Linked DNA regions of Homo sapiens. The protein of the gene in region 1 interacts with the protein of each later gene in a biochemical or structural test. Each region holds a gene or a part of one and is shown on either strand. Other genes may lie near its edges.

Region 1 (4,328 bases):
CCCAGCTACTGGGGAGGCTGAGGCAGGAAAGTTGCTTGAATCCGGAGGCGGAGGTTGCAGCGAGCCAAGATTGTGCCGTTGCATTCCAGCCTGGGCGACAAAGTGAGACTCCATCTCAAAAAGAAAAAAAATGTATCTGTGATACATAGTATATAATAACTACTTTGGCTTCTTTCTAATTCGCTCACTCAACTTCTCCACCTCATGTTTCGATGGAAGTCTACCACTTCAGCAGATGTCCATTGATGACTATTTGTATTTGCCATCTTTTTCTGTGCTTTAAACTTAAGAGTTCTCATTTTCTGTCTAGCCTGCTGTTCATGTACAAGGTCAGGAACCTTTGACTGCTTCCATGTTGGCATCTGCCCCTCCTCAAGAGCAAAAGCAAATGTTGGGTGAGTACTTCTGTCCCACCTTGTCAGTTCAGAAAGACTAGAAAATATAGGAATCACTTAGGCACTAGGTCAATCAATTGACAGCTAGGGCAGTGGAATTGATCTGAATTGGCATGAATGATTATGATAGTACAGTTGGTCTGCCTAATTAAAACCACTGGAAAGCCAATAAGAAAATGTATTGTTAGTAATAAATAGGGTAGTAGGGCATTACTCACCATGGGCCCTCACTACATTTTTGAGAGAAGGAATTTGAAGCAAATGAGAAGAAAACTTGTGACTTTGCCTGAACACCGATTTAACAACCTAATGGTAACATTGCTTAATTGGCAAGCTGATAATATCAAGAGTTAATTGCCTTGTGGCAGATTTTATTCTGTCTTCCCATGAAGACATAATGAAATTGTGGATTATGGGTTATTATATACGTGAGACAGAAGTATGGTTCTTAAACCCCAGTTTAATGTGGTAATTCAATGCAGTTAAAAACTTTTTTTTATTGAAGGGAGTTTTTGAATGTTTCTGTTCCTAGGTGAACGGCTGTTTCCTCTTATTCAAGCCATGCACCCTACTCTTGCTGGTAAAATCACTGGCATGTTGTTGGAGATTGATAATTCAGAACTTCTTCATATGCTCGAGTCTCCAGAGTCACTCCGTTCTAAGGTGATTTAAATTTATTTACCAAGTTGCCTCTTACACAGTTATTACGTGGCTTTTTATGGGGACTTAATTGTACAGAACACTTACATCGTGTTATATATAAGCCATGTACAGTTGTAAAGTCTGCATAATAACCTGTGGCGCTATTTATCCCCATTTTATAGATAGGTAAACTGAAACAGGCTGAATAATTTGCCAAATGCTCACACAGCTCTTAAGTGGCAGAGCCTGGCTTCAAATCCCATCAGCTCCAACAGCCATACTCTCAACTGCTGCTGCTTTCTCTAGTGGAGAAAGAGAAATATTTTTCGAGTGTGGGGAGGACAAGGAAAGAGTAGTGCAGGGGAGCGATTCATAATTCTAGAATAGTGGTGTAATAGAACTCAAAATTGAATGGATATAGTTGTTTAGTGTAACAATTTATACTTTCATTTGAGGGAAGAAACTTATCTTTGTTGGGAATTGGTATGTTACCATTATGAAACTCTTTATTTCCATTCCTTTCCTGAACCAGTTTATCTGTTTTCCCCTTTTTTAGGTTGATGAAGCTGTAGCTGTACTACAAGCCCACCAAGCTAAAGAGGCTGCCCAGAAAGCAGTTAACAGTGCCACCGGTGTTCCAACTGTTTAAAGTGAGCTTTTCCCTCTGGTTTGTTGTTTTAAGCTTGTTTTCTTCATCTTTTATAAAGTTTGTTGAGCATATTTTGAAATGTACATAGCAAAAGATCATTTTACAGTTCATTTAAATGTATTGCTAATTTTTCAAGGAAAAGTGGAACTAACTATAGAGGAATTAAAGGAATTTTACCCGTTAACTGTTGGATTTTTAAAATCCCAGGACTTTCAGGTGGTGTTTTTTTTTTTTTTTTTTTTTGAGATGGAGTTTCGTTCTGTCGCCCAACCTGGAGTGCATTGACGCGATCTCGGCTCACTGCAACCTCCACCTCCCAGGTTCAAGCAATTCTCCTGCCTCGGCCTCCCGAGCAGCTGGGATTAACAGGCCCATGCCTGCCACCGTGCCCAGCTAATTTTTGTATTTTTACTAGACTTGGGGTTTTGCCATGTTGGCCAGGCTGGTCTGGAACTTCTGACCTCAAGTGATCCGCCCACCTCGGCCTCCCAAAGTCTTGAAATTACAGGCGTGAGCCACTGCGCCCTGCCAGATTTTGTATAGTAATATATATATAAAATGACCTGTCACAGGTTGGCTTTCATAGTTTTACCTTTCCTTTTTGGGTGGTGCCCTTGGGTCTCTACTACTGTCTTTCATCACTCCCAAGAAATTGAGTAGTGCAGCCAGGATCAGGACCAGGGATTGGCAAATGTTTTTTGTAAAGGGCCAGATAGGAAATATTTTGGGCTTTGAGGACTGTGTTATCTCTGAAATGATCTTGTTCCAGTGTTACCATGTCAAGACAACCATAGATAGTATGTATACAAATGAACAGGTATGGCTGTGTTCCAGTAAAACTATGGATAAAAACAACCACATTGCATTTGGCTAAGGGCTTTAATTTGCTACTGACAAGTGATAGTCCTGGTCTTAATTTGTTTTTTTAACATTTACAGATTGATCAGGGACCATGAAAAGAAACTTGTGCTTCACCGAAGAAAAATATCTAAACATCGAAAAACTTAAATATTATGGAAAAAAAACATTGCAAAATATAAAATAAATAAAAAAAGGAAAGGAAACTTTGAACCTTATGTACCGAGCAAATGCCAGGTCTAGCAAACATAATGCTAGTCCTAGATTACTTATTGATTTAAAAACAAAAAAACACAAAAAAATAGTAAAATATAAAAACAAATTAATGTTTTATAGACCCTGGGAAAAAGAATTTTCAGCAAAGTACAAAAATTTAAAGCATTCCTTTCTTTAATTTTGTAATTCTTTACTGTGGAATAGCTCAGAATGTCAGTTCTGTTTTAAGTAACAGAATTGATAACTGAGCAAGGAAACGTAATTTGGATTATAAAATTCTTGCTTTAATAAAAATTCCTTAAACAGTGCACGGATTTGCTTTTTTTCAAAGTCTTTATAATTGCCATGCATAAATAGGTAATATCTTAATGGTGCTGAGCCGACATAAGAATCTTTTATGAAAAATGTACTGTTAAGTTCAGGGGGTCTATTGGTTTTATGTAAAAGGCACAAGACAATTCCTGTAGTGCATTTTATGAGTTAAGGTTTCCATACGGATTATTGAAACAATTTGTTACATGTATTTGTTACATGATCTTAATATTTCATGTACAAGACTGACACCCATCCACTTTTGAAGATAAGCCAGTTTATGGGGTTTTTTTTTTTGCGGGTAGAGGTTGGGTCTCCCTATTTTGTCCAGGCTGGTCTCGAATTCCTGGGCTCAAGCATAAGCATAAGGCTTATTCCTGCATAAGCCACCATGCCTGGCCTGCCAGTTGATGATTATATTGAGGTTTCTAGGCTATGAGATTATTAGCTTAAACCCTTACATGATATAAAACAATGATAGCTACTCTTGAAGAGGATGTAGATAAGATAGGCTTTGGTATGATTTTAATATTAAAGTGTTAAAAGTTATGATTAGTTTTAAACCTTATTCTTGTAACGTCTTTAATTTGGTAGTTCATGATTGTGGCTTAATTTTAGTGTAATACCCAAAGTACTTGTTAAAGGTGAAGATGTGGGGTTCTTTTAGGAGGATGGATTTAGAAGATCTAGCCTGGAGTATAGGGTATCTGCATAAAACTGATAACCCAGGCAGTTTACACTTTTAGGTTTTAATTTCTAACCGATCATTCTCTGTGGACTACTGCTAGAGTTAGCTTTCTAAGTTAAACGTGTGGTTATCTCATTCCATGCTAAACAAACAATTCTATTAACCTTCGGGATTAAATAAATCTAAACAAAACCCTAGCTTGTGACAGTGGCAGCCCTCAATGCTGATGAAGCCTAGTGATGCTTCTGTACCTAGAATGCTTTTCGCTTTGGCTTCTTGTTTTGAAACTCAAGATAATACAAACTCCACCCTCCTACCCTTTAGCATAGAACAGTGCATCCAGTGGGGATCCTGATCATTTTGTATTTTGCCTCACAACAGACATACCCTCTCAGGGGCTGATGCTTCATTACAATTTTTTTTTTTGAAAGATTTTCTTCATTGTGTTAAGGCAGAGAAACACCATATTTTTTCAAAATTGTAATACAAAATGGTTCAAATTTTGAGGTTTTAAAAGAGCCGGCTATTTTGAGACACTTGAAGTCAAATCTATAAAGTTCACACACTA
Region 2 (5,155 bases), on another chromosome or scaffold:
GCAGTTACATCTATGAGTTTATCACTAAGATATGATCCCTGGCTCATCGGGAAACAGCTAAAATAAACTAAACTTGTTGAATAAATTATGGTCTATCTATACCACTAATATAAAGCCATTAAGAAAAAGACATCAATGTTATGTTGTTAATAAAGTTTTTGGACCGGGCATGGTGGCTCATGCCTGTAAGCCCAGCACTTTGGGAAGCCAAGGCGGGCGGATCACCTGAGGTTAGGAGTTCGAGACCAGCCTGGCCAACATGGTGAAAACCGGTCTCTACTAAAAATACAAAAAACAATTAGCTGGATGCGGTGGCACACGCCTGTAGTCCCAGCTACTCAGGAGGCTGAGGCTGGAGAATCTCTTGAACCTGGGAGGCAGAGGTTGCAGTGAGCTGACATCACACCACTGCACTCTAGCCTGGGTGACAGAGTGAGACTCCGTCTCAAAAAAAAAAAAAAAAAAGAAGGCCAGGTACGGTGGCTCACGCCTGTAATCCCAGCACCTTGGGGGAGGCCGAGGCAGGTGGATCACAAGGTCAGGAGATCGAGACCATCCTGGCTGACACAGTGAAACCCCGTCTCTACTAAAAATATAAAAAATTAGCTGGGCGTGGTGGCGGGAGCCTGTAGTCCTAGCTACTCAGGAGGCTGAGGCAGGAGAATCACTTGAACCAAGGAGGCAGAGCTTGCAGTGAGCTGAGATCGCGCCACTGCACTCCAGCCTGGGGGACAGAGTGCAAGATTCTGTCAAAAAAAAAACAAGAAAGAAAAGAAAAGAAAAAAAGTTTTCAAAACTAGAAACAAAATGCACAACAATGATTTCCCCTCCCAGGAAACCCAATTTCTTTAACATTTTGGGTACCTTGTACTTATCCACAATTGGCAGCCTGATTGGTCCATCAACTGATCTATTGAAGTTCGGCAAATTATCCAGATATGGAATAAACGGTAATCCACTGAGAACATAACAACAAAGCCATTAAAGGAAGTCAACATAAATATCAAAATGTTAAGTTACATGACTATAAACAGCTTCTAATAATATTTTCATTCTACTCATGTATTCTTCCCATTCAACCACTTTATTATCCATTTCATCTCACTTATTCCACAGAAAACTATTATAAAACTGCTCAGTATAAGGCTTCCTCATAAACTTATTAAAATTTAGAGAAATATTTTATAGCAAATAGCCTACATGTAATAAATTGACTATATTACTTTTTATGGACTTTTCCAGCTATGAAACCAAGATTCTATAAAATAATTTCCCCTTTAAACATACAGTATTGGCTGCGTGCAGTGGCTCATGCCTATAATCCCAGCACTTTGGGAGGCCGAAAGGCAGGTGCATCTCTTGAGCCCAGGAGTTCGACACCAGCCTGGGCAACATGGTGAATCTGTCTCTACTAAAAATACAAAAATCAGCCGGGTGCGGTGGCATGTGCCTACAGTCCCTACGACTTGGGAGGCTGAGGTGGGAGGATCTCTTGAGCTGGGAGGCAGAGGTTGCAGTGAGCCGAGATCATGCCACTGCACTCCAGCCTGGTTAACAGAGTGAAAACCTGTTTCAAAAAAACAAACCAAAAAAAAGAAACACGGAGTTCAAGAATAAACTCGTATTTATGGTCATTTGATTTTCAAAGAGGGAGCCAAATCAATTCAATGAAAAAAGAATAGTCTTTTCAACAAATTGTGTGTAAACAATTAATATACAAAAACAAAACAAACCTACACATAGACCTTACATCTTACACAAAAGTTAACTCAAAATCAAATACATATCTAAATGTAAAAAACTTCAAAAATAAAACCTTTTGTGCTTCAAAGGACACCATCGAGAAGTGAAAAAAGGCAATCCATAAAGTGGGAGAAAATACTTGCTATAATCATATTGTAGCTGATAAGGGACTGGTAGCCAGTATTAAAAAGAACTCTTAGGACTCAGTAACAAAATGACAACCCAGTTTAAAAATGGGCAAAGATCTTAGTATTTTTAAAGCCAAGGTTACATTTAATATTTTCTTAAATTACTTATAAAGATATATGCTCAAAAGCATATGTTAACATGTTACTCAGCATATGTCTTTATAAGTAATTTAAGTAATAACATCCTTTTCCTTTTTAAAAAAAGGAAAAAACAGTTACTTACATGTACCAAGGACAGAAATCCGACTGCTCTTTGAGATTTGCTCCAGTAAGTCCTGAGCAGGGCATAAAGTGAATGTCCTTTTTGGGATTGAAGCCAACTTTTTTCAAAAATGGCACTAGTTTCTCCTTACATTCTTCATATCTGCAATTATAATGTAACCAAAATAACTCAATTATAATGTAAACCAAGAACTCTAGTTTCCTAAGTAAACAGATTAAGGTTTAGAAAAACCCTAGAGAAAAAGTCGTACAATAACAAAACCATCCTTAATCCCACTAACATAAAATACCAGACATCTACGCTCACCTCTCATTGCTCCAATTTACTGTTGGATCATCCATCTTATTAATTAGCACAATTAGGTGTTTTACACCTGCTGTCTTTGCCAACATTGCATGTTCTCTTGTCTGTCCTCCTTTTTCAAATCCAGTTTCAAACTCTCCTTTCCTGGCTGAGATTACCTAATTCCAAGAAAGGAAACAGTTTACTCCTTCGCCTTCAGGCATACCCTTATGGCAGTAAAACATCTTTCCTTTCAGTTATATCACGAGTTTTTTTTTTTTTTTTTGCAAGAAAATAGAAGCAAACGAGTTATGACGTACCTGCTTTTGAATGTCACAAATCAAACAATGTCTAGATGCTTCCAATCCCCCACATTCCCAAAATCTAGTATACCTGCATATTTTAAAATTCCAACATTTACTTTCTAGCTATTGTAACTACAAAGGAAAAAAAATTGTGATCTACTACCAGTACATTGTGAAAAGCGCAAAATGACTGAAGACCGTATGAAACAGATGGTTTCCTATTCATTTTTTACCCATGGTGCCTAACGGTGGGCTTGGCATTTAATGGAGACTAAGTTCTGACATGGTAATAGATAATAGCAACAGGAGAGAAAAGGTGAAACGTATTTTCAGAAGTAAATCAAATTTTGAAGATTTCTTGAAGAGAGATTAGTATGATGAAAACTGTGACCGTGTACATCATTATATTTCACTGCAACCTGAATTTGAGCTTTTAGAAGATAAATTCAAATTTAAAGATATAAGCGGGGCTACTAACAAATATACAGATGGACTGGAAATGTCTTTCTTACCAGCACAGCCAAATCAGCTTGAGAGGCACCACCAATCATATTTGGGACAAAACTCTTGTGGCCAGGGGCATCTAGAATTGTGAAATGCTTCTTTTCGGTTTCAAAATAGGCACGACCCACTTCTACTGTTTTACCCTTGTCTCGTTCTTCCTGATTTGTGTCTAAGGCCCAAGACAAGTACCTGAAATAATTTTTAAAAAAAGAACAATATTCCTAAGAACATCAGAGTTTTTAGGATATTCTTCACCATTAAAGATATAATGGATGACACACAACACCTAAATCACGAACAAGATTGGTGAAATGAAAATTGAGCCGGGTGCGGTGGCTCACATCTGTAATCTGAGCACTTTGGGAGGCCAAGGCGGCGGATCACAAGGTCAGGGGTTCGACACCAGCCTGACCAACATGGTGAAGCCCTGTCTCTACCGAAAATACAAAAATTAGCTGGGTGTGGAGGAGCCCACCTGTAGTACTTAGGAGACTGAGGCAGGAGAATCGCTTGAACCTGGGAGGAGGAGGTTGCAGCGAGCCAAGACCGTGCCATTGCACTCCAGCCTGGGCGACAGAGCAAGGCTCCGTCTCAAAAGAAAACAAAGAAATTGAAAGAATAGGGCTGGGCGCAGTGGCTCACGCCTGTAATCCCAGCACTTTGGGAGGCCGAGGCTGGCAGATCACCTGAGGTCAGGAGTTCGAGACTAGCCTGGCTAATATGATGAAACCTCATCTCTACTAAAAATACAAAAGTTGGGCATAGTGGTGCACACCTGTAGTCACAGCTATTTCGAAAGCTGAGGCAGGACAATCGCTTGAAGCTGGGAGGTAGAGGTTGCAGTGAGCCAAGATCGTGCCATCGCACTCCAGGCTGGGCAACAGAGGGAGACTCTGTCTCTCAAAAAAAAAAAAAAAGGGCTAGGTGCAGTGGCTCATGCTTGTAATCCAAGCACTTTGGGAGGCCAAGGCAGGCGGATCACCTGAGGTCAAGAGATTGAGACCATCCTGGCCAACATGGTGAGACCCCATCTCTACTAAAAATACAAAAATTAGCTGGGCATGGTGGCGGGCGCCTGTAGTCCCAGCTACTCGGGAGGCTGAGGCAGGAGAATCGCTTGAACCCAGGAGGCGGAGGTTGCAGTGAGCTGAGATCGCGCCACTGCACTCCAGCCTGGTGACACAGTGAGACTCCGTCTCAAAAAAATAAATAAATAAAATAAAACTGAAAGAATGTATTATTTTGATTCAAACCCTTAGAGCTTTTATATAAACGCAGTCAATTATACCATCTAGAACTTTATGGCAAGTTGACTACACAGAAAGACTAACTACAAATGCCAATATCACTGTGTGTTAAGTGATAATGAGCTCCCTTATTACTTCATTTTTATACTCACATGGCACAAAATACAACACAAATAATGGCTGTCTTGAGAGTTAAAGGGTAATAATAAAACTTTTTTGGATGGATGCTGTGGCTCACGCCTGTAATTTCAGCATTCTAGGAGGCTGAGGCAGGCAGATCACAAGGTCAGGAGATTGAGACCATCGTAGCTAACACGGTGAAACCCTGTCTCTACTAAAAATACAAAAAATTAGCCAGGCGTGGTGGCGGGTGCCTGTAGTCCCAGCTACTTGGGAGGCTGAAGCAGGAGAATGGTGTGAACCCAGGAGGTGGAGCTTGCAGTGAGTGGAGATGGAGCCACTACACTCCAGCCTGGGCAACAGAGCCTAGGTCGTGCCCGGCACCCCCACCCCTCTTCTTCTTTTTTTTTTTTTTTTTTTTTTTTTTTGGAGATGGGAGTCTTGCTCTGGCCAGGTTGGAGTGCAGTGGCACCATCTCGGCTCACTGCAACCTCTGCTTCCCAGGTTCCAGCTATTCTCCTGCCTCAGCCTCCCAAGTAGCTG
Region 3 (5,155 bases), on another chromosome or scaffold:
CATTCACCCGAGTTTTCTTTTTGAAAACACATTTTCAGCAACCCATTTCCAAAGAATTTTTATTTACAGCAGAAATTCCCCATCAAGAGGAATCAGCTGGTTTTTAAGGAATTCTGCTGCCTTCAAAGGGGGCGGAAACAGTCGGTTATTTGACTTTACACGCCCCGCCCCCCCTTCCCCTTCTCTGAGTCTGAAGCATCCCAAACACTACTTAGCCAAACTAGTTCAGATGAAGTGATCGTTTCCCCAAGTAGGGTAACTTCAGTTTCCCTTTTTCGTTGGCATCTAGCGAAAAATGAAAAAATTTAAAATACAACTTTTATAGAAAAGGATGTATTCTGTTTTTACTTTCTTAGGTATTAGGAAGAGATTTGGCAGATAATTCAACATGTTCAAATATATAAACATTAAAACTAAGGTTATTAAGTTGCATTGACTACTAGGCTTAAAAATTAGATTATAAGAGAATTTGCTCCTGAGTAGTTTGAGTGATCAAAGATATTTGGAATGTTTTAGTACCACAAGGTCTTTTTTCTGTTCCTTGAGGCTTTACAACAATTTAAGGTTAATTTAGATTTTTCCTTGCTTTAAGTTCTTTTACTTGAGACCTAAATGGCAGCCCTTATTCTTTCTGATGAATAGGTGAAATTTTGTTTACTGTGTTGGATTTGTGTAATGTGAAGTTTTATTCTTGAACAGATCGTTAATGTACTTGTAGAATTACTTTGAATTTGAATCACTTTCCTGCATTCCTTGTAAATAAGTTTCAGCTTCTAGAATCTCCTCACTTAGGTTTGTGCGTATCAACAGTGAAAATAAGTCTCTGAGAGCAAGGGTGAAAAAAAATGCAGCATTCGGTTTGACAAGTTTCGAGATAGCAAAATATGCTTGAAAGTCTGGAAATTCACATCTGCTTTAAGAAACATTTCATAATTTGACTTTGTGTGTGTGTGTGTGAATAGTTTTTCATGACTTTCAGAAGTGATTTATTTTGTTCTTTGTTATATATATTTTTGAAGGTGGCTGTTTTAGGAAAGATAATGTAATCACAATATTAGAACATAATTTTACTGTAATCTAATTTTGTGTGTGTGTGTGTGTGTGTGTGTGTGTGTGTGTGTGTGTTTTGGATGGAATCTCACTCTGTCGCCCAGGCTGGAGTGCAGTGGCCTGATCTCAGCTTACTGCAGTCTCTGTCTCCTGGGTTCATTTAAGTGATTCTCCAGCCTCAGCCTCCCCAGTAGCTGGGATTACAGGTTCGTGCTACCACACCTGGCTAATTTTTTTGTATTTTTAGTGAGGACGGGATTTTGCCATGTTGGCCAGGCTGGTCTCGAACTCCTGACCTCAAGTGATCCGCCTGCCTTGGCCTCCCAAAGTGCTGGGATTACAGGCGTGAGCTACTGCCCCTGGCCAATTTTTGTATTTTTAGTAGAGATGGGGTTTCACCATGTTGGCCAGGCTGGTCTCGAACTCCTCCTGACCTCAAGTGATTCGCCAGCCTCGGCCTCCCAAAGTGCCAGGATTACAGGCAGGAATGAGCCACTGCCCCCAACCATCAGTCTAATTCTTATTTTTGCTTTTTACCTTTTCATTTTTATGTAGTAGAGGTGATTGTGTATGTTATTTTGTAGTTAGCTTTTTTCCCCTGAACGTTGTATTGTAAATGTAAATTTTTTTTTTTTTTTTTGAGACAGAGTCTCGGTGTTTGCCCAGTCTGAAGTGCAGTGGTACGATCTCAGCTCACTGCAGCCTCTGACTCCTGGGTTCAAGCGATTCTCCCACCTCAGCCTCTTGAGTAGCTGGGGCTACAGGAATGTTCCACCACGCTTGGCTAATTTTTGTATTTTTGGTAGAGACAAGGTTTCACCATGTTGGCCAGTTTGGTCTCGTACTACCGACCTCAGGTGATGCGCCCGCCTCGGCCTCCCAAAGTGCTGGGATTGCAGGCGTGAGCCACTGCGCCCGGCTGTAAGGTTTTTACTTAACCATTCTATTGTTGGGAATTGGGTTTCCACTTTTTTGTTATAGATAGTGGTGCAGTGAACATTTTTAAATAGCTTTTTGCTTCAGTGTAATTATTTCCTTAGAGAAAGTTACCAAGAGTGGTTTTACTAGTTCAGAGGGCTTCAGGATTTTTATGGCTCTTGCTAGCGGTGCTCTATTATTCTTTAGAAGACTTGTATTACTTCCAGTGTCAAGAAGGTTGCTCTTCCATGGAATGGTTTCTTTGTAGTTTGTCAAATATTGTGGGGAATTTTTAAAGGAAAAATTGCATTTTTACTGTCAAGTGCATATATTATTAAGTGCTTTTGTTAGTTACTGGATTATTGATATTTGAGTTTAATTTGGTTCCTCTGAGGATTTAATAAGGTAATATATGTGAAGATGTTTTGAAACCTGTAACCATTATTATTAATGAGGGTACTTGGTTTATCTGTCGTGCTGATAGTACTGAGTAAAGTGCAGGAATGAAATTCCTGAGGAACTGTTCTAAAGCTTTGTTGTTGTTGTTAACCTTTCTTTTTCATCTGAAAGTGTTTTTTATTAGCTGCTAGCCTATGACCAAGTTATTTTTGGTAACTTTTTTGTAATTTCATGGCACTATTGGGAATTTTCGCTGGTTGACTCTTCTTCTTCTACATTCCCTTCCCCATTAAAAATAAAAATATGGATTTACAATTGTTACTCTATTCCTAAACCTAAATAATATGACATTAGAATTGCTTGGGATACAGGATTCAGTCTGAATAAAATATTTTTCTTTTAGTGATTTTCAGCTTAGTATTTTTACTGCTTCTTTCTCTTGAGGCATTGCAACTTAAAAATTGTGCTGTTTAGCCAGGCGCCTGTAATCCCAGCTACTTGGGAGGCTGAGGCAGGAGCATCACTTGAGCCCAGGAGGCGGAGGTTGCAGTCAGCTGAGATTGTGCCACTGCACTCCAGCCTGGGAGACAGAGTGAGACTCTATCTCAAAAAAAAAAAAAATGTGCTGTGATTTAATGTAGTTGTTCATCATGCTTCCATTTAAATTTCAGTGAGACTGTTCATCTTTTGCAGTTAAATATCTTGTAGAAGGGCCTAAAATATCTACGTTGAATACAGCTTTATTGAAGCATCTATGTACATGGGGTTTTTGGGATGAATCAGTGAATAAAGCAAACATATTGTCCTTTTGGAGTTTACATTCTAATGTGACTAGGCAGACAATGAGACATTAAATTACCAGCCTATGTATAATAGTGTATAAGAGCTATGGAATTAGAAGAAAGCAGATTAAAGGTATAGGGAGTGTGGGGAGGGGAATGAGTTACAATTTTAAATGGATTGGGGGAACTTAATTGAGGAGCTAACATTTGAGCAAAGATTTGAAGGTTGGGTATTTAGCCGTTTGCTTTTTATCTAGGTTAATTAGTCATGTGGCTTCATTAGTAATTTATAAGGTTTAAATGGCATCATCCTTTGTTATTCTTTTATGTGCACATTGATACTAACCATCTCTGAAGTTAGACCAAAAAAGTTAATTGACATTGAGGGTCATTAGAGGTAAATTGTAGATGGCTATTACTAACCAAAGAGACATGTTTTGTTTTTCTTTTGGGCTTACGTATTTTACCTAATTAGTTTAGTTTTTGTTTCAAGTATGTGGAGAAAATAAACTTTTTAAGTTTGGGCCAAAACTTGCTTTGGTTTTCTTTTTCTTTTTCTTTTTTTTTTTTTAAGAGAAAAATGTAAGCCTGTAGTTGCTTAAAGATTCCACATTCTGAAACAGTGAAAACATGGGATCAGTCATGGTGTTCCTTTTTTTGGTTAAATGTAAACTTGTATTTTCAGTGTTACTCTAATTAGCAATGGTTTATACTTCTACATAAGGGATGTTAACTCATATTGTAGCTATTTAATAGCCATATATTTTGACTTAAAGGAGGATCTCAAGGCCAGGCGCGGTGGCTCATACCTGTAATCCCAGCACTTTAGGAGGCTGAGGCGGGTGGATCACCTGGGGTCAGGAGTTTGAGACTAGTCTGGCCAACATGGTGAAACCCCCATCTCTACTAAAAATACAAAAATTAGCCGGGCATGGTGGTGGGCGCCTGTAATCCCAGCTTCTTGGGAGGCTGAGGGAAGAGAATTGCTTGATCCCGGAGGTTGCAATGAGTGCGGAGGTTGCAGTGAGCTGAGATCATGCCATTACACTCCAGCCTGGGCAACAGAGCGAGACTCTGTCTCAAAACAAACAAACAAACAAAAAAAGGAGGATCTCATTTTTTTGTCCTAAATAGCTACAGCCGTGTTAGAACTGTCACCTTAGCAAAGTATTGTTTTTTTACTTTGAAACGAATTTTAAGGTTTTAGAAGATTGTTCTCTAGAATTACAATTTTCTGTTTTGACTAGTGATAGTATTTTGATGTTGTGTAAATAGTTGAGCATGAACAAAACCCTATTTTTTTTTTTAGCTATTTCAAGTGATTGTGACAACTTCAACGGAGATGTAAACAGTTTATTAACAGTCACACCTATTATCTTTTTTTTTTTTTTTTTTTTTTGAGACGGAGTCTTGCTCTGTCGCCCAGGCTGGAGTGCAGTGGCACGATCTCTGCTTACTGCAACCTTTGCCTCCCGGGTTCAAGTGATTCTCCTGCCTCAGCCTCCTGAGTAGCTGGGTCTACATGCGCACACCACCACGCCTGGCTAATTTTTGTATTTTTAGTAGAGACAGGGTTTCACCATGTTGGCTAGAATGGTCTCAAACTCCTGACCTCAGGTGATCCACCTGCCTCAGCCTCCCAAAGTTCTGGGATTACAGGCATGAGCCACCGTGCTTGGCCGCTGCCGTATCTTTTTAAATGAAAGTACTTGTGTTTTTTTTGTTTTTTTCCAAAGGATATCTGGGTCATCTATGATGTTACTGTTACCATCTAAGGGTTTTTTTGTTTGTTTTTGAGACAGAGTCTCTGTCGCCCAGGCTGGAGTGCAGTGGCGTGATCTTGGCTCACTGCAACCTCCGCCTCCCAGGTTCAAGCAATTCTCCTGCCTTAGCCCTCCCGAATAGCTGGGATTACAGGCACCCGCCACCATGCCTGGCTAAGTTTTGCATTTTTAGTAGATATGGAGTTTCACCATGTTGGCCAGGCTGCTCTTGAACTCCTGACC
Region 4 (5,155 bases), on another chromosome or scaffold:
CAGGTACTGGCAAGTCCTGCTTTTGGTCTCTCTCCATTTCTTCTCCAGGTCTGCCATCTGTGCCCTCTTTGCTTCTTTTTGTCCTTATCACTAGCATCTGTCATGCCTAAGTCCCCACCACCCTCTCCTGTCCCTCCCAACAGCCTGTTCTGAGACCCTCACTGGAACTCTTGTCTCTTCTCCCTCCAGGACCTATTCCGCAGGGTGCGCTCCATCCTGAATAAACTGACACCCCAGATGTTCCAGCAGCTGATGAAGCAAGTGACGCAGCTGGCCATCGACACCGAGGAACGCCTCAAAGGGGTCATTGACCTCATTTTTGAGAAGGCCATTTCAGAGCCCAACTTCTCTGTGGCCTATGCCAACATGTGCCGCTGCCTCATGGCGGTTAGTTTCCAGTGGGTTCTAAATCTAATGGTCTGGTTGCCCATTCCTATTCCCAAGACTCCTTGAGTCCAGCTTCTTGGTTCCCCTCCAACTTGTGCCTCTTCCAGCTGGAAGGAGGCAGAGCTGGGGCCAGAGATCTTCCTGGGTCAGGTAGTTAAAGGCTCTTGGAGGGCCTTCCCTGCCCAGGACTAGTCTTGAGTGTGACATTCTCTCTGACCTACAGCTGAAAGTGCCCACTACGGAAAAGCCAACAGTGACTGTGAACTTCCGAAAGCTGTTGTTGAATCGATGTCAGAAGGAGTTTGAGAAAGACAAAGATGATGATGAGGTTTTTGAGAAGAAGCAAAAAGAGATGGATGAAGCTGCTACGGTGAGAGAAAACCCACTATCGATTCCACTCACCACTTACCTCCTTCCCTTACCCAGATGCTACTCAGCTGTAGAATTTGGAATGGAGGTAGTGGTGTCTTGGGGATTTCTCTGGCTCAGGACGTTTTTTTTCCTTTTTGAGACAGTCTTGCTCTGTCACCCAGGCTGGAGTGCAGTGGTGTGATCTTGGCTAGCCTCCACCTCCTGAGTTCAAGCGATTCTCCTGCCTCAGCCTCCCAAGTAGCTGGGATTACAGGCATGTGCCACCATACCTGGCTAATTTTTTTGTATTTTTAATAGAGACGGGGTTTTACCATGTTGGCCAAGCTGGTCTCAAACTCCTCCTGACCTCAAGTGATCCGCCTGCCTCAGCCTCCCAAATTGATGGGATTACAGGCATGAGCCACTATGCCCAGCCAGCCGGCCTCAGGACTGAGTGCTTATTGCTAGGTTTGGATATCCAGGTAGAAAAGGGTTTTAGCCGAGTGGCTGGTTATCTTTTTGACACAATCCCTGTCCTGTGAATGGCAGGCAGAGGAACGAGGACGCCTGAAGGAAGAGCTGGAAGAGGCTCGGGACATAGCCCGGCGGCGCTCTTTAGGGAATATCAAGTTTATTGGAGAGTTGTTCAAACTGAAGATGTTAACAGAGGCAATAATGCATGACTGTGTGGTCAAACTGCTTAAGAACCATGATGAAGAGTCCCTTGAGTGCCTTTGTCGTCTGCTCACCACCATTGGCAAAGACCTGGACTTTGAAAAAGCCAAGGTAGAGGTCCTTGCATCTGGAGGGGGATGGGCTGAAGCATATGTGGGGCTCACTGAGCCCACAATGATGGGGCGGAAGGCCTGAGGAGGGGTGGGGCCTGCAGTTATAGGTGGGACATGAGAAGTTCCTGGTCTGATGCCTTTCTCCTTCCTAGCCCCGAATGGATCAGTATTTCAACCAGATGGAAAAAATCATTAAAGAAAAGAAGACGTCATCCCGCATCCGCTTTATGCTGCAGGACGTGCTGGATCTGCGAGGGGTGTGTGTCCCCCTCCTCCCCACTGCCAGCCTGCTGCCTCCAGTTTCTGACACTGCCTTGTCTTGCCTTCCCTGACATCATCGTGACTGGCCCTCTGTCTCCACAGAGCAATTGGGTGCCACGCCGAGGGGATCAGGGTCCCAAGACCATTGACCAGATCCATAAGGAGGCTGAGATGGAAGAACATCGAGAGCACATCAAAGTGCAGCAGCTCATGGCCAAGGGCAGTGACAAGCGTCGGGGCGGTCCTCCAGGCCCTCCCATCAGTGAGTTCCAAGCTGGGATTGAGAAGGGAGCAGTGAAGGGACCGGGAGGTTATACTTTCCTCTGATGACTTCCTGTTAGTGCCACGTGTCTGGGCCACTGAGACACCATGATGGAACTGAGGATCTGAGGAAGGGAGGCTGGGGGTGGCCCAAGGGGAAGGGGCTGCTAGGATTTATTCATTATTCCAGTATGCCCCTCTTTTTGTGTCAGGCCGTGGACTTCCCCTTGTGGATGATGGTGGCTGGAACACAGTTCCCATCAGCAAAGGTAGCCGCCCCATTGACACCTCACGACTCACCAAGATCACCAAGGTAGGGGTGTGTGTGGGAGTGGGTGATTCAGCTCAGGTTTAGATCTTAGTCCCTTCACTTTTCTAAAGTTGAGAAGGTGACAGCTGAATGTTTCCTCTTAGACTAACTGGTTGGATTGCTGGAGACAGGACTGCCAGCTGTAGAGGGAGGGTGGTACTCCCATTAGTCTGGACCAGTGTTTGGCAAACACACACACACACACACACACACACACACACGTGCCAGATCCAGCCCATTCATACATCCCAGGACCCAGTAGTGGTTTTTACATTTTAAAGTTGCGAAAAATCAAAAAGTGAATGGTAATTTATGCTGTGGAAATTAAATAAAATGTAAATGTCAGTGTCCATGAAGTTTTATTGGAACACAGTCACAGCATGCCTTTATCATCTACAGCTGGTTTCATGCTACTGTGGCAGAATTGAGTAGTTGCAATAGAGACTGGCCCTTTATTAAAAAAGATTTTCTGACCCCTGGACTGGGCCATTCACTACCTGTTTGGTTGCATATGGTGGTGCTGGCCAAGGGACTCAGCCGGGTTGGACCTATGATTCTACTCCCCTTTTCTTCTTCAGCCTGGCTCCATCGATTCTAACAACCAGCTCTTTGCACCTGGAGGGCGACTGAGCTGGGGCAAGGGCAGCAGCGGAGGCTCAGGAGCCAAGCCCTCAGACGCAGGTATGGAGGCAGTGTCAGGAGCTGGGTGGTTACCCGTCAGAGCTCCCTTGAGGACAGAGCCTTTTCTGTTAGGGAGGCCTTCAGTACAAGGTGGTTAGGCAATGCGGGCAATAGAGGAGGTTTGTGTTGTGGTTCCAGGGATTGAACTGCTTTACTTTTGGGACTGGGACCAAGTGTCCTAAACTGGCAAGTAGGGGATAAAATGCAGGAAAGGAGAAAAAGATTTTAATACGGATTTTCTGCATCCCCAGCATCAGAAGCTGCTCGCCCAGCTACTAGTACTTTGAATCGCTTCTCAGCCCTTCAACAAGCGGTACCCACAGAAAGCACAGATAATAGACGTGTGGTGCAGAGGTGAGGTTTCCTGGACATCTTTGTTATTCACACTGGGGGTACCGTGATTGGGTTCTGGTTGTTGCCATAGGTTGGAAATTTCTTCATACCTGTCCTGGTTGGAGCCCTTGGGTTAGATTGGGGCATACTCATTATGCTAAGAACAAGGCCCAACAGTTGCTCAGCATGTTGTGTAATTACATGAGTGCCTGGGCAGTGCAAGTGAGTGAAAATTTGTCTGTCTGTCTTCCAGGAGTAGCTTGAGCCGAGAACGAGGCGAGAAAGCTGGAGACCGAGGAGACCGCCTAGAGCGGAGTGAACGGGGAGGGGACCGTGGGGACCGGCTTGATCGTGCGCGGACACCTGCTACCAAGCGGAGCTTCAGCAAGGAAGTGGAGGAGCGGAGTAGAGAACGGCCCTCCCAGCCTGAGGGGCTGCGCAAGGCAGCTAGCCTCACGGAGGATCGGGACCGTGGGCGGGATGCCGGTGAGAGTCTGGGAGAGGAATGGAGGGAAAGGCATTGGCTGCCTTGGGACTAGCTGGTCCCCAGCTTTTTGAGAGCTCCAAATCTTGTTTGCTGGGAAGACTGAAAAGTCCCTCTAATCTGTGTTCTCTTCCCACAGTGAAGCGAGAAGCTGCCCTACCCCCAGTGAGCCCCCTGAAGGCGGCTCTCTCTGAGGAGGAGTTAGAGAAGAAATCCAAGGCTATCATTGAGGAATATCTCCATCTCAATGACATGAAAGTAGGCAGTGGGAGCGGCGTGTGATTGAGGAGTGGGCAGGGAGGGATCATGCTGGCAGGCATAGGGGTCCGGGGTCTGGGTCAGACAGTGACTGGTCTCTTCCTGCTGTGCCCTGCACCCCTCAGGAGGCAGTCCAGTGCGTGCAGGAGCTGGCCTCACCCTCCTTGCTCTTCATCTTTGTACGGCATGGTGTCGAGTCTACGCTGGAGCGCAGTGCCATTGCTCGTGAGCATATGGGGCAGCTGCTGCACCAGCTGCTCTGTGCTGGGCATCTGTCTACTGCTCAGTACTACCAAGGGTATGACCAGCTTCTCTGGGCCTCCCACTTATACAGACCCACAATTTTCTATCTCCTTTTTGGGACCCTTGGAACCTTGCATAAGAGTGTAGGTTCCCTGGCCGGGTGTGGTGGCTTATGCCTGTAATCCCTGCACTTTGGGAGGCCAAGGTGGGTTGGATTCCTTAGAGGATCACGTGAGGTTGGGAGTTCTAGACCAGCCTGGCCAACATGGTGAAACCCTGTCTCTACTAATAATACAAAAATTAGCCAGGCGTGGTGGCACAGTAATCCCAGCTACTCGGAGGCTGAGGCAGGAGAACTGCTTGAACCCGGGAGGTGGAGGTTGCAGTGAGCCGAGATCGTGCCATTGCACTCCAGCCTGGGTGACAAAAGCAAAACTGTCTCAAAAAAAAAACCAAAAAACAGTATGGGTTCCTTGACCATCCTGGTCAGCATAACTTTAGGGGGTTAAGCGGGGTGAAAACCATCTAAGGACACAGAGGTGGCCTTAGCTTGAAATAATTGTCCCCATGTCTAGAAAATGTTCCTGGGGGTTCCATAGTTGATGCCCTAGCCATGCCACGTTGCCCCAGAAGGAGAGTGGGGACCTGGCCTAGAATGTCTTGACTTTGAATTCCCTTGGCAGGTTGTATGAAATCTTGGAATTGGCTGAGGACATGGAAATTGACATCCCCCACGTGTGGCTCTACCTAGCGGAACTGGTAACACCCATTCTGCAGGAAGGTGGGGTGCCCATGGGG

Evidence for each region.
Region 2: the proteins of PABPC1 (region 1) and GSPT1 are reported together in a solved structure, tested with the Homo sapiens proteins (3 studies listed by BioGRID and IntAct, with this or other methods).
Region 3: the proteins of PABPC1 (region 1) and ATXN2 are reported together in a solved structure, tested with the Homo sapiens proteins (2 studies listed by BioGRID and IntAct, with this or other methods).
Region 4: the proteins of PABPC1 (region 1) and EIF4G1 form a complex in vitro, tested with the Homo sapiens proteins (2 studies listed by BioGRID and IntAct, with this or other methods).

Annotation. Positions count from the first base shown.
Region 1 is NC_000008.11:100,701,656-100,705,983, reverse strand, and holds the end of PABPC1 (polyadenylate-binding protein 1), read left to right. Parts: intron 1-310; coding exon 311-395; intron 396-927; coding exon 928-1,058; intron 1,059-1,593; coding exon 1,594-1,686; 3' UTR 1,687-1,687; exon of another isoform or gene 1,688-2,624; 3' UTR 2,625-3,068; downstream 3,069-4,328. UniProt on the Homo sapiens protein: Binds the poly(A) tail of mRNA, including that of its own transcript, and regulates processes of mRNA metabolism such as pre-mRNA splicing and mRNA stability.
Region 2 is NC_000016.10:11,884,317-11,889,471, forward strand, and holds part of GSPT1 (eukaryotic peptide chain release factor GTP-binding subunit ERF3A), read right to left. Parts: intron 3,435-5,155; coding exon 3,254-3,434; intron 2,616-3,253; coding exon 2,461-2,615; intron 2,296-2,460; coding exon 2,155-2,295; intron 959-2,154; coding exon 865-958; intron 1-864. UniProt on the Homo sapiens protein: GTPase component of the eRF1-eRF3-GTP ternary complex, a ternary complex that mediates translation termination in response to the termination codons UAA, UAG and UGA.
Region 3 is NC_000012.12:111,592,176-111,597,330, reverse strand, and holds part of ATXN2 (ataxin-2), read left to right. Parts: intron 1-5,155. UniProt on the Homo sapiens protein: Involved in EGFR trafficking, acting as negative regulator of endocytic EGFR internalization at the plasma membrane.
Region 4 is NC_000003.12:184,323,591-184,328,745, forward strand, and holds part of EIF4G1 (eukaryotic translation initiation factor 4 gamma 1), read left to right. Parts: coding exon 1-3; intron 4-189; coding exon 190-387; intron 388-610; coding exon 611-757; intron 758-1,287; coding exon 1,288-1,524; intron 1,525-1,678; coding exon 1,679-1,783; intron 1,784-1,889; coding exon 1,890-2,049; intron 2,050-2,105; exon of another isoform or gene 2,106-2,181; intron 2,182-2,260; coding exon 2,261-2,361; intron 2,362-2,936; coding exon 2,937-3,039; intron 3,040-3,290; coding exon 3,291-3,393; intron 3,394-3,625; coding exon 3,626-3,858; intron 3,859-3,995; coding exon 3,996-4,114; intron 4,115-4,239; coding exon 4,240-4,412; intron 4,413-5,040; coding exon 5,041-5,155.